Homo sapiens: one gene and its partners. The protein of the gene in region 2 interacts with the protein of the main gene of each other region in a pairwise test. Each region holds a gene or a part of one and is shown on either strand. Other genes may lie near its edges.

Region 1 (3,500 bases), on a different chromosome or scaffold from region 2:
CTTTTCACGCACCTTGCTCCCATCCACACGTTAATACCTGTTTCTGCAGCTTGCAGACTTACTTTTTGCAAAGAGCTGCGAGATGGTTTTTCTGGTGTCCTCTGACCCCTCATATTCCTTCTCTGCAAGCTGCTTGTTGGCAGTCTCTAGACGCTCTGTGAAATTTGGAGACAATCAACAGGGTCTCAAATGTAAACTTTCATGCACATACTATTGGCCCTCTAAATACTGACCTTTGGTAAAACAAGCCTGTTTCTTCTTGTTAAACAGGAATGGGTGACTAACATGAGTTTGCAAATGTGAATCCCAAAATAATACTAGACCATGGCCGGGGAGGAGGAGGTAAGTATTTAATGCTTTCACTCCTCACTGCCAAAACCTAAGTTAAGTGCAGAATTCTAAATTTCAATGAAATTATCCATCCCCAAATATATAAAGATATCTTTCATTAACCAGAAAAAAAAGAGTATCACAGTTATTATAAAGTATTTAAACTCATGTAATGTCAAAGTTGAAAGGGACAACTAGCAGCATGTATTTGGGCCCCCTGACTTTAAAGATAAAATAACCAAAATTCAAAGATAGTAACATCCCTGGCCGGGCACAGTGACTCATGCCTGTAATCCCAGCACTTTGGGAGGCCACGGTGGGTGGATCACCTGAGGTCAGGAGTTTAAGACCAGCATGGCCAACGTGGCAAAACCCCATCTCTACAAATACAAAAATTAGCCAGGCATGGTGGCGCACGCTGGTAATCCCAGCCAGCTACTCAGGAGGCTGAGGCAGGAGAATCACTTGAACCTGGGAGGTGGAGGTTGCAGTGAGCCGAGATTATGCCAGTGCTCTCCAGCCTGGGCGACAGTGCAAGACTCCAACTCAAAGAAAAAAAAAAGAAAAGAAAAAGGAAAAAAAAAAGAAAGTACCATCCCCAAGGTTAGCAGTTTTGAAGGTGCTGAAGGCACTTTAAAGTAGAAATATTTCCCAAAGTCTTCAATATTATCAGGTGAAAGTCAAAAATAAAAGGAGTCAGTCAGTCCTGGAAATAAGAGAGGACATTATACTTCAAGCTTGCAGTCAAAGGGCACGCCTCTGTAAAACCTGTTAAAAAGAAGAGGCAGCACCTATTGTGGGGGTGGGCCAGGTGGGTCCAGGAGTCCCAGCAGGGATCCTGCCTGATTAACACATCAGCTCATTGCTCAGAAGACCAGTGAGGTACATCCACACTTTGATCAATCAAGCTTGGGACTGAGGACTATTGCAGTCACAAAAAATTAGCCTGGCACATGCCCAGCCATTTACTGCCCATACCGGTGGGTTGGACAACCCCAAAGAGCCTAGTTGGATCCTGCTCAGCCCTTCCCTTCACCACCCTGCAGCTGCTTCAGAAGTACAAAGACAAGTCTGTTGGTTCCCTCACCTCTCAGATCCCTGTTGAAATCATGCATCCTCCGAATCTCGCCCTCTAGCTTGTTTCTCATGGCTTTCTCTAGGGCCTCTCTTTTGGAGGATGACTTCACGAGGTTCTCATATGCCTCCGAGACGCGCTGGATTTCTGTCTCCACCTTAACAACAAAAAAAGACAATGGTGGTGATGGTAGGAGGGTGATGGGGAAAATGGTCTGAAAACAAACAGGCAAATCCTCGCTGACAGCTTCTCCCAGGGCTCACAGATGGCCAGGAGGCAAGCATAACACAGTCAGATGACACAAGTTTCAAGAAAGGATCTCCACCTTCAACCATAAGCTTAGTAATTAACTCATGGTGTCATGGTCTTTCCTCGGGTTAAAAAAATAGACAATTTCTGCCTTCAGAGGAGATGGTAAGATAGAATAAATTTTATAAATAGTTATAAAGGATTTTAATTTCTGAAGAAAACTCTTAATTTTGAAAATATTAGTAATAATATATATAGTATGTAGATATTCCAAAGCATTCAAAGGGCTTTCACATGTTGGTTCCAGTCTGCACTGATTATCTGCCTAGACAGGATACCTCTTCTCATTTTAGTAGAGAGAAAAGTCAAATTGCCTCTGAAGATCAACTGTCAGCAGCAGAGACCAACCCTAAAAACCCCAAGCTTCATGAAGTAGTTCAGTTCAATTTAACAAACATTTACCAAGGGCCAAATATTTACACGAACTCTTTAAAGTACTATTGGGGGTGTGTAAATATGAATGAGAACATTCTCACTGCCCTCAGGGAGGTTTCAATCCAATCGAATGAAAGACTATAGGGCAAGATACATCTTTAAGAAAAGTAGAAGTAGTGCCATAAAGTACAGACAAGGAAGAAGTTATTCCTGGTTGGGGAAGTGGGGAGGAGAACAATTTCTGAGAAGAGGTGGCATTTACAGTCAGATCCTGAAAGCTGGGTCAGATTTCAATGAGCAGAGGTGAGGGGAAGGGTATTCTATTCTGAGTAAGCAAATGCATTCCCAGAATGACCAGTCGTTTAATTTGGCTGGACACTGTGGGGTACGCAGAGGGAACCTGGCGAGATATGGCTGCTAAGATAGATTGGAGTCAGATCATAAAATGCTTTTAATGCCAGGCATTTGGACTTTATCCCATAGTCAATGGGAAACCAGTATAGGTTTTTGAACACAAAATCATAATCAGAGTTGTGTTTTATGACACCCCTGCAAATCTCATAAAATGGGGAAAATAAACTCAGAGAGAAAGGGTCTTCCCCTGAATCAGCCACAATCAGGCCGAAAATGAGAAATTAGACTCCAGAGTTTTTCTGTAACTAGTATAGCTCCATTGCACATATAATAGCCACACAGATATTTGCATATAATTTGTATAAGACAAATAAACCCACGGTCTATTAAGCAATTTTCAGATTAAATTGGACTCTGCAACCATTCTGCATTGCTTCTGTGTTTTCCACTATCCTGTTTAACAAAGCTCAGGGTACTTTCAGGGAAGAAATATCAGGCCCCTAATGGGACACTAGGGGAAAGGTAAGGTTGCCAAACCAGTCAGATTCAACCCGCCTCCATCTCCAAAATTCTGCCAGAGACAGGACTGCCTGCAAACAAATAAGGCTTATGCCACAGAAAAGAGCAGACTCAAAAGTGTTTTTCTCTTCACAGATGGCACCAAGATAGCAGCACAGAAGGTGAAAACTGGTGAATGGCATTTAGAGACAAGATCTGCAAGGCCTGCGCCTGATGAAGCTTTTGCATGAAACTCAAGCGCTGGGGAGAGAAAATAAACATTTCCATCTGAAAGAGCAGGCTTGGTGTTGGTCTGCTCTGGGCAGCATTTATAGTTCAAGGCTGTCCGGTTGTGCACAGAATGCAACACCTAGAAGGTAGTCCCTTTCCTCAAGGTGTGCAGACTGCTATTTCAAGATCTTGTACTAATCCTTCCCCTACCCCCTGTGTAGATACTCCATCCTTCAAAAGGGCAAGTCCCACAGCTCTCAATAGGGCCTTCCAGGAAAAGCCATCACAGAAGGATATATCCACTGGTTTGGGCTGGGTGATGGTGGGG
Region 2 (3,500 bases):
AGAGGCAGTCTCTGCCTTTAAGGAGTTTGCGCTTGTTGGAGTCACCAAACACACACAAAAAGTTACAGGGCCATAAACTTTTTAAGCCAGAAGGGACCCCTGTAATCATCACAACCACCCAAGGAGGTAACTTAGCACCATGTGGGCCAAAGGCCTTGTCAGACTTGGCCAGAGGAGCCGGACCACAGCTGTGCCCTGGATCCTGTCCGACTGCATCAAGTCAGATCTTAGAAATATGCTGTAGGCATAGAACTGACCAGAAGGTGCAGACCAGGAGCACTGCACATGAACCCCTCAACACTTTTGACCAAGTGACTTGTGACCGTCACTTGGACACTCTGACCCTGTTCTCATATCTGTAGAGGGCAAGAAGTCTCACGACCTCCTGGGATTTTTTTGGTGAAAATTAAATGAGAACGGTAAGATCTTCCAGGCCTTCCTCCTGGTCCATGTGTCCTCAATCCGGAATTCCCCAACACCAAGGGCAGAGAGGAGTGGTGAGAGTAAAAAGAACAGTTCATTCTTCTGGAGAAGAGAAGGTTGATTCAGTGAAAAAGGCCTCGTAGTTGAGAAGGGGGACTCTCTGTTCAGCATCCCCACTAAAGGAAGAACAAGGGGAAATAGACTTCAAAAGTTAGAGAGAAAAAAATACTTCTAAATGGTCAGAGGAAATCCATAAAGTAGGTGGGGACAGGCTGTGAAATCACCCAAGTCTTTAAAACAGGCCAAAGTGCCCAGCCATCTGGGTGCGTAAGTAAGGCGTGGATACTGCCTTGAAGCAGGATGCACACGATGACTTCCTTGGGGCCTTTTCCTGTTGTTAGGAATCCAGTGATGAGGCCACATTCTGTAAACTCTCAGTAGGGACCAGAAGTCAGAGGCTGGGCACTGCTGCCGGCTTGGCTGCAGTGCTCACTGCTGGGCTGAGTCACAACCCCTCCAGAGGTGGGCACCCACCTGAAGAGCAGGCAGTTGGATCATGGCCTCTGCACCAAGTTCTGAGGTCCTCCAAATGAACCAACAAAGGCACAGTAATTTGGGGGAAATCACAGGAAAATTCCAAGAAAAAACCGAGTGCCAACAAAAACAGAGAGCCCCAGCCAGGCACGGTGACCCACGCCTATAATCCCAGCACTTTGGGAGGCCGAGATGGGTGGATCACCTGAGGTCGGGAGTTCAAGACCAGCCTGACCAACATGGAGAAACCCCGTCTCTACTAAAAATACAAAACTAGCCGGGCGTGGTGGCGCGTGCTTGTAATCCCAGCTACTCGGGAGGCTGAGGCAGGAGAATCGCTTGAACCCGGGAGGCAAAGGTTGTGGTGAGCAGAGATCACACCATTGCACTCCAGCCTAGGCAACAAGAATGAAACTCCATCTCAAAAAAAACAAAAACAAAAACAAAAAACCAGAGAGCTCCCATTTTCTCAACTGCCCTAATTTCCTTCATCATCTTTATCATGATCTATAATGACTGGACACTGGTGTTTCCATGTTGAACACCTGTCCTGTGAAACCAGACTGTAAGCTCCATGAGGGACAGCCCTGTCCTCACACGAATCTCCGACGCTGAAAGTAGTGAGTGGCACGTGGCAGTGACTGAAAACCTTGCTGACTCTCCTTAAAGGACCTAAGACCATTAGATGGGTCACTGGAAAAGTTTTTTAGTTTAACAGGCATGGTGCAACACCAAAAAAGCCAAAACAGCCTTAAATAGCATTCAAACACTCTTTCTTCCATGCCTTCAGTCCTGCTATCTTGGTGGTATTAACACATCAACCATGTCTCCACTGTAAGAGCTATACTTCAACCTCTGTGGGGAGAAAATGACTCAATAGAAAATTCCTTCCTCCCAGCAAAAAAGACACCTAACTCAAACCCTATGTGTGCTCACACGGCTTTGCACTCGTTGTTTAACACATGGATCCCAAAATAAACTTGTCTCCCTTCACTTCCAACATAGAGGACTACTGTGTGACCAGTAATTAAAAATGGAATATACTGCTCTTAACTCAGTTGACTGCAATAAAGTACTTGGATTTTCCCACAATCATAACAAGACAGGGCAGAGAAAGGAGGCAGGGTTGTGGGGAGAGGCAGAGACTCGGTATTTCAGAACCCAGACCTTTGTCAAAAGTGCCACATAATTTTAAGAAAACGGAGTGGGGCTGTTTTCTTGTGATTACTTAAAAAAAAAGGCGGGGGGGGGGGGAGGAAACTCAAACCACGCTACAGTAATTGTACCCAGATGCTTTATTTCCTCAGGACTGTTGTGCTTCCAGTTGCTGCAAGGATTTTAAATTCCTACACAGAGTAGAGGCCTATGCTGCAGCTTCTGCATCAGCCTCACATCCACAGACCTGGTTTGCAACCTCAGTAAGCAAAGGGTTTTCAGCCTGCAGGTGGCAGAGACCCCCGGAACCTTCAGGGAAAGGAGGTGCCGGCTGCTTTCTGTTTTCCCCTATCCTGTTCTTATCTCCTCTTAATGAGATGCTGTGGCCCTGCCCCTCCCCATAAACCAGAGGGGAGCCTCCAGGCAGGGAGCACAGAACTGACCTGACAGAACTGACCATAGGGGTCCTCCTCCTTCTCCTCCTCTTCCTCTTCCTCCTCCTCCTCCTCACGTTCCCTTCTCAAAACAATGCAACTTCAAAAGTATATGCTTCTAAGTCTGTGCGTTCAGGGCTTTCCAAGAGCCCTCTGAAAATTTACTCACAAGGTCACTGCCCAAAAGGCAATACCCTCTTCAACAAGCATTTTCTAAGGCAAGATCAAGGGACACTCGGCAAGGGGCCAGGACTCCAACAGCACTGGGCAACGGGACCTTTTGAAAACAGGCAAACTTTTACAAGTGGATCTTAGCAAACTGCCCTCACCAGAGCTTCCATCCTCTAATTGTGGACTACTGCTTCCAGCATATCTTTCCTATGGCATCATTTTCTTTGATAATTGAAGCCAAGCTTGATTCCAATGGCTCCGCACAAAAACGGGCCTCATCAGCGAGTTCTTTCAGAGAACTGGAAGCAGCACTCGGAGCCAGCAGAGGGCCATCTGCTGGGCCCGACTTCTTTTAAGGGAGGCCAGAGCAGAGGGCCCAATGGGAGGCAGATGAGCCCCACCTTGGGCAGGACACACAAGGGCCCGTGCAGAAAGGCGAGGACACAGGGAGGGCTCTGTGCACCCAGCACCTTATTCTCCTCCCCAAAATAAATGCTGGGCCCAGTGCCCAATCCCACAACCCCCCTTCGCACACACCTCGACACTGTGCGTGTGTGTGTCTGTGTGCCGGGGATTTTACACGTGCTCCTACCAACAAGTTGCTTTTGCTCTAGGTTATTTATAGCCATTGTCAAAAGCCCAGGCATCCCCCTCAACCACTCAGACCAGAGTCCTGCCCTCTGAGGATAATTCCTGCTCTTCCGCCCCAACTATTTATATTAAACCTGACACCAAATCAGTAAGGACACAAACAAGTCGTTAAAAACGAGGCTCCTTTGAGTG
Region 3 (2,321 bases), on a different chromosome or scaffold from region 2:
GCCTGGCCGCAGTCCTCACACTGGTAGGGCCTCTCTCCGTTGTGCATTCGTATGTGCTGGGCCAACTCAGAGGCAATGCGGAAGGCCCTGCCGCACTCGGCACAGAGGAATCCCTTCTCCCCGGAGTGGATCTGTTGGTGCCGCTTCAGGGTCGAAGAGCGGGCAAAGGCCTGGCCACACTGCGTGCAAGGAAAGGGCCTCTCGCCAGTGTGGATGCGCTGGTGGCGCACGAGGCGCGAGGGCTGCGCGAAGGCCACGCCGCAGTCAGCGCACTTGAAAGGCCTCTGGCCGGTGTGCAGCGTCTGGTGCTCGGACAGATTGGAGGACTTGGTGAAGCACTTGCCGCAGGTGGGGCAGGGGAAGGGCCGCTCGCCCGAGTGCACGCGCTGGTGCTCCACCATGCGGCTGGCCACAGCGAACTCCCGGTCGCAGGCGGGGCAGCGGAAGGGCTTGGCGCCCAGGTGCGTGCGCTGGTGGCGCAGCAGCGACAGCGGCTTGTTGAAGGTCAGGCCGCACTCGGAGCACGGGAAGGGCTTATTGTTGCTGTGCATGTTGCGCTGGTGTTTGCGCAGGTCCGAAGAGCGCACGAAGGCCTTCCCGCAGTCTGGACACGGGTAGGGTTTCTCGCCTGTGTGGGTGCGGATGTGCTTCCGGTGGTCGGAGGACCAGGTGTAGGCCTTGTCGCAGAAGGAGCACTGGTAGGGCCGCTCGCCCGTGTGCAGGCGCCTGTGCTGCTGGAGTGTGCCGCGGTGGGAGTAGGCCTTCCCGCATAGCTCGCACGCGTAGCGCTTGGCGGCGCCGCCGCGCGTCTCCGCGGGGCTCAGCGGCTTGCTGGGCTTCTGAAAGGCCCGCCCGCCCCGCAGGCACCTGTAGGGACGCGCCTCAGCCTCTCCGCCCTCGCGCCGGCCCGCCTGGTTCTGTACTTTCCTGCTGTTCCGCGCTTTTGCCAGGACCGCGGCAGCCAGGCTGGCTGGGGTGGCCGACGCCTGGGCTGGTGTATGTGTCTCTTGCGTGGGAAGGTCCCAGTTGCTCCCCGGCCTGGGGAAACACAACAGAGAAGAGTTCCCTGCGGACGTGTCTACACTTTTGTGCGCACAGAGATACTTTCCATTGCTGGGGAAGCTGGGTGGGACATCCAAGACTGCGTCCTGGTTTGCCCCCGAGTATCCATCATCACCCGCAGGTAGTCGGTCCCCAAGAGGTTGCATCTGACCTAACAATTTGTGTGCGAGACCACTGGGAAGGGAACCCAGAGCTCTGCTTGCTCCCGGGGAACCCTGGGTCTCGTTGATCTTTGTCACATCTCTGCTCCAACTGGCTTTCCCAGACATTTCCACTGGTTTCTGCCCCATGCCCCCAGCACTGGAGGAGTCAGAGAATTTCTCTTCCTCTTTGCCCAGTGGATGGGGCCATGGCAAGTCAGGATTTTCGTGTGTTACTGGGGAGCTGCCCCTTGGACAGGCCACCGGGTCAGCGGTGCCCTCTTTTTCGGCCTCCCCACCATCTTCATCGTCACTCTCTAAGTTCATGCTCAGCATCTGGGTGTCATGAGCTTCCTCAGTCAAGCTGCTGAGAGGAGACGCCTCTCCCCACCTGTCCTGGGAGTCCACTTGTGCCATGATGTTCAGGCGCTTCTATTGCCTACTCCTCTGAGGAGGAGTATCCTGCTTGGCTCAGGATACCTGCAAAAAGAAAAGTACGAAGAGAAAATCACAAAGAATGTACTTAATCACTTTCATGAGCAGAGGGACTGAGGTTCCCACTATAGCTCTGTTTCCAACTGGTCTCCATGTCAGGCATATTGTTGAGCCTCACTGAGGACAGAGGCCTGGCTCTGCTGAAAATTCCAGTCATCCTATTCCCTCTGGAGATCCCACTTGCTATAAGCCCCAGGAGACCATGCTGTCAGGAATAGCCAGGGTGGGGCATTTGCTGGGTGCCAGCTGTGCCTTGTCCTGTCTAGGGTGCTCATCCCCAACCACTAACCAAATGTGTCCTTTGTCAGCATGGGGGACAACTCGATGAGAGGGTAGGAACCAAGCTGTGGTCCTCCTAAGACACTCTTACAGTGTCCCCCACTCAGGAAGCTGGAAACCAGGCTGGCTTTTGCTGTCCCTGCCAGGAATGGAAGTCTGCCATCCCATGATGGTGTCAGCTAGGGTTACCTCTCAGGCCCTGGGCTGTGTAGGCCACCTCTTCCAAAGATAAGGAGCAGCCCTTGGGAGAATGAGGGTGAGTCAGGAAGGCACCAGTTGCCCCTCACTGATTAAGCGGGGCTTCTCAGGCCCTTGTAACTTCTGAGGAACTCCTAACTGCCAGGA
Region 4 (3,500 bases), on a different chromosome or scaffold from region 2:
CCTAGGCTACAAACCTGTACAGGATGTTCTTGTACTGAATACCGTAGGCACTGTAGGCAGTTGTAACAATAGTATTTGTGTATCTAAACACGAAAGGTACAGTAAAAATATAGCATTATAATCTTATGGGATCACCATTTTTCTTTCTCTTGGAATCACATTTCTCTCTCTCTCTCTCTCTCTCAACATTTCTCTCTCTTTTTGATGAGGCCTCACTCTGTTGCCTAGGCTGGAGTGTAGTGACATGATCAGAGGTCATTGTAACCTTGAACTCCTAGGCTTATTGTAACCTTGAACTCCTAGGCTTAAATGATCCTCCTGCCTCAGCCTCCCAAGTAGCTGGGACTACGGGTGTATGCCACCACATCTGGCTAATTTTAATTTTTTACTTTTTGTAGAAACGAGGTCTTGCTCTGTTGCCCAGGCTGGTCTTAAAGTCCTGGCTTCAACCAATCCTCCTACCTTGGCCTCCCAAAGTGCTGGGATTACAGACATGAGCAACCATGCCCAGTTCCATTTTTATTTTTTAAGAGACAGTCCAGACTTGCATTGTCGGCCAGGCTGGGGTGCACTGGTGTGATCACAGTTCACTGCAACCCCCTAGGCTCAAGAGATCCCCCTACCCCAGCCTCCCAAGTAGCTGGGATTACAGTCCTGAGCCACCACGCCTGTCTGGGACTGACATTTTATATGTAGCCTGTTATTTTTATTTATTTATTTATTTTTGAGACAGAGTCTCGCTCTGTCACCCAGGCTGGAGTGCAGTGGCACGATCTCGGCTCACTGCAACCTCTGCCTCCCGGGTTCATGCTATTCTCCTGCCTCAGCCTCCTGAGTAGCTGGGACTACAGGCGCCCGCCACCAGGCTCAGCTAATTTTTTGTATTTTTAGTAGAGACGGGGTTTCACTGTGTTAGCCAGGATGGTCTCGATCTCCTGACCTCGTGATCTACCCGCCTCGGCCTCTCAAAGTGCTAGGATTACAGGCTTGAGCCACAGCGCCCGGCCCGTAGCCTGTTATTAAACGAAATGTCATTATGCAGCACATGACTGTAAATAAGTGAGGTGGTTCAATATTGTGCAGAGATATTTTTCCTGTACTTAATTTATAAGTAAATTTAATATAATTTCAATCAAATGCCAATTGAATTATTTTTTGGAACTAGAAACATTTATTCTAAAATCCATAAATATAAGCAAATAAGAATTGTTTTTTTGGTGGGGGGAGTTAATGGAACAGAACCTGTATTATGGATATCAGCAACTAAAACAAGATTATATTGGCAAAGAAATGGAGAGAAAAGATATATATGAGTATCTAGATATACTCATGTATATATGGATTTTAATATATGACAAAGGTGGCCTTTCAGTTCCATGGGAAACAGTGGTGGTACTGGGACAGGTAGCTCACTATTTAGAAAGGAAAAATGTAGCAGGCTCCTTTGGTTGGCAGACTTCTATGATGATCTCATGAGCTTGTTAACTGTCCTCACACCCTTGTGTAATCCCCTCTCCTTAAGTGTGAGCTGTCCTAGTGACTTGCTTCTAACGAACAGACTGTGGCAAAAGTGAAAGAATGTCACTTCATGAGTAAGATACAAAAGATTGTGACTTCTGTCTTACTAGTAGACTCGCTGTCTTGGCTTTGATGAAGTAAGGTGCCATGCTGGAGAAGCCTGGGTGACAAGGATCTGAGGGTGGGCTCTGGCCAACAGCCAGCCAGGAACTGAGGCTCTCAGTCCAACATAACTTGACAAACTGAATTCTGCCAACATACATGTGAACTTAGAAGCAGATCCTTCCCCATCTGACACTTTATATGAGACTCAACTTCTGGCCAACACTCCAACTGCAGCTTTGTAAGAGACCCTGAGCAGAGGGCCCACCTAAGCCATGACCAGATTCTGGATTCACAGCAACTAAGGCAACAAATGCTTGTCATTTTTCCTCCCAATGGAATGGTATTTTCCCAAAATCTTGCAGATCAGTTACAGCAAACAGAACTATGACCATCAAGGAAAACTGTCACTCTTGGCTTCTTTTTGACCACAGCAGCTACATGGAAGCAGCTGCAGCTTTGATAAAGGCCATAAATGCTTGCTATTTTAAGCCAATAAATTTTGTGATCATTTGATATGCGTAATTGAAAATGAATGCAGGCCAGGCATGGTGGCTCAGGCCTTTAATCCCAGCACTTTGGGAGGCCAAGGCAGGCTTGGGCCCAAGAGATCAATACCAGCCTGGGCATCATGGTGAAACCCCATCTCATCTTTACCAAAAATACAAAAAAATTAGCTGGGCATGGTGGTGCATGCCTGTAGTCCCAGCTACTTGGGAGGCTAAGGCAGGAGGATCACCTGAGCCTGGGAGGTCAGGGCTGCCGTCAGCCACAATCGTACTACTGCACTCCATCCTGGGTGATGTGGTGAGATCCTGTCTGAAAAAAAAAAAAACCCAAAACACAAACAAACAAACCCAAATGTAGTTCCTTACCCTCATCATACACAAATTTCAATGTCGGGCAGTATTGAATAACGAACACTGGGTTGACTAGTGGCCCCCAAAAAGATGTCAATGTGGGCCAGGTGCAGTGGCTTACAACTGTAATCCTAGCACTTTGGAAGGCCAAGGAAGGCACACTGCCTGATCTTAGGAGTTTGAGACCAGCCTGGGCAACATGATGAAACTCCATCTCTACTAAAAATACAAAAAAAAACCTAGCCGGGCGTGGTATCGGGCGCCTGTTATCTCAGCTACTCAGGAGGCTAAGGAACAAGAATTGCGTGAACCCAGGAGGTGGAGGTTGCAGTGAGCCGAGATGGTGCCACTGACTGCACTCCAGCCTGGGCAACAGAGTGAGTCTCTGTCTCAAAAAAATAAATAAAATATAAAATAAAATAAAAATAAAATAATAAAATAAAATATAAAATAAAATAAAAAAGAAAAATAAAAAAATTATTTTGGGGCTCAAGTTAGATTTTCTTGGAATAAGAACGGTGTTTTGTTTTGTTTTGCTTGTTTTATAAAAATGCAGCTTTGAGTGGAAGGAAAGGTTTACACTGCCAAAAAAATAAAAGTTTTGAAAGTCATGCCGACTCTTCATTTTTTTCCTCTTTACATGGAAACTTAGCTGTAATGAATATTTAGTTAATTCTTCCACTCTGCACTTTTTTCTTTTTAGACGGAGTCTCACTCTGTTGCCCAGGCTGGAGTGCAGTGCTGTGATCTCGGCTCACTGCAACCTCTGCCCTCCTGGGTTCAAGCCATTCTCCTGCCTCAAGCAATTCTGCCTCAGTCTCCCAAGTAGCTGGGATTACAGGTGCCCGCCATCACGCCCGGCTAATTTTTGTATTTTTAGTAGGGATGGGGTTTCATCATGTTGGCCAGGCTGGTCTTGAACTCCTGATCTCAGGTGATCTGCCTGCCTCAGCCTCCCAAAGTGCTGGGATTACAGGCTTGAGTAATAAACTAACAAAAGCTCTGAGCTACTTATAATTT

The links.
Region 1: the proteins of AXIN2 (region 2) and AMOT interact in a two-hybrid assay, tested with the Homo sapiens proteins (one large-scale study listed by BioGRID).
Region 3: the proteins of AXIN2 (region 2) and ZNF648 interact in binary tests that used the Homo sapiens proteins (3 or more experiments, as listed by UniProt).
Region 4: the proteins of AXIN2 (region 2) and PPP2R5A interact in binary tests that used the Homo sapiens proteins (3 or more experiments, as listed by UniProt).

Annotation. Positions count from the first base shown.
Region 1 is NC_000023.11:112,809,832-112,813,331, forward strand, and holds part of AMOT (angiomotin), read right to left. Parts: intron 1,563-3,500; coding exon 1,418-1,562; intron 156-1,417; coding exon 63-155; intron 1-62.
Region 2 is NC_000017.11:65,551,649-65,555,148, forward strand, and holds part of AXIN2 (axin-2), read right to left. Parts: intron 1-3,500. UniProt on the Homo sapiens protein: Inhibitor of the Wnt signaling pathway. Down-regulates beta-catenin. Probably facilitate the phosphorylation of beta-catenin and APC by GSK3B.
Region 3 is NC_000001.11:182,056,392-182,058,712, forward strand, and holds part of ZNF648 (zinc finger protein 648), read right to left. Parts: intron 1,683-2,321; 5' UTR 1,620-1,682; coding exon 1-1,619. UniProt on the Homo sapiens protein: May be involved in transcriptional regulation.
Region 4 is NC_000001.11:212,351,410-212,354,909, reverse strand, and holds part of PPP2R5A (serine/threonine-protein phosphatase 2A 56 kDa regulatory subunit alpha isoform), read right to left. Parts: intron 2,093-3,500; exon of another isoform or gene 1,960-2,092; intron 1-1,959. UniProt on the Homo sapiens protein: The B regulatory subunit might modulate substrate selectivity and catalytic activity, and might also direct the localization of the catalytic enzyme to a particular subcellular compartment.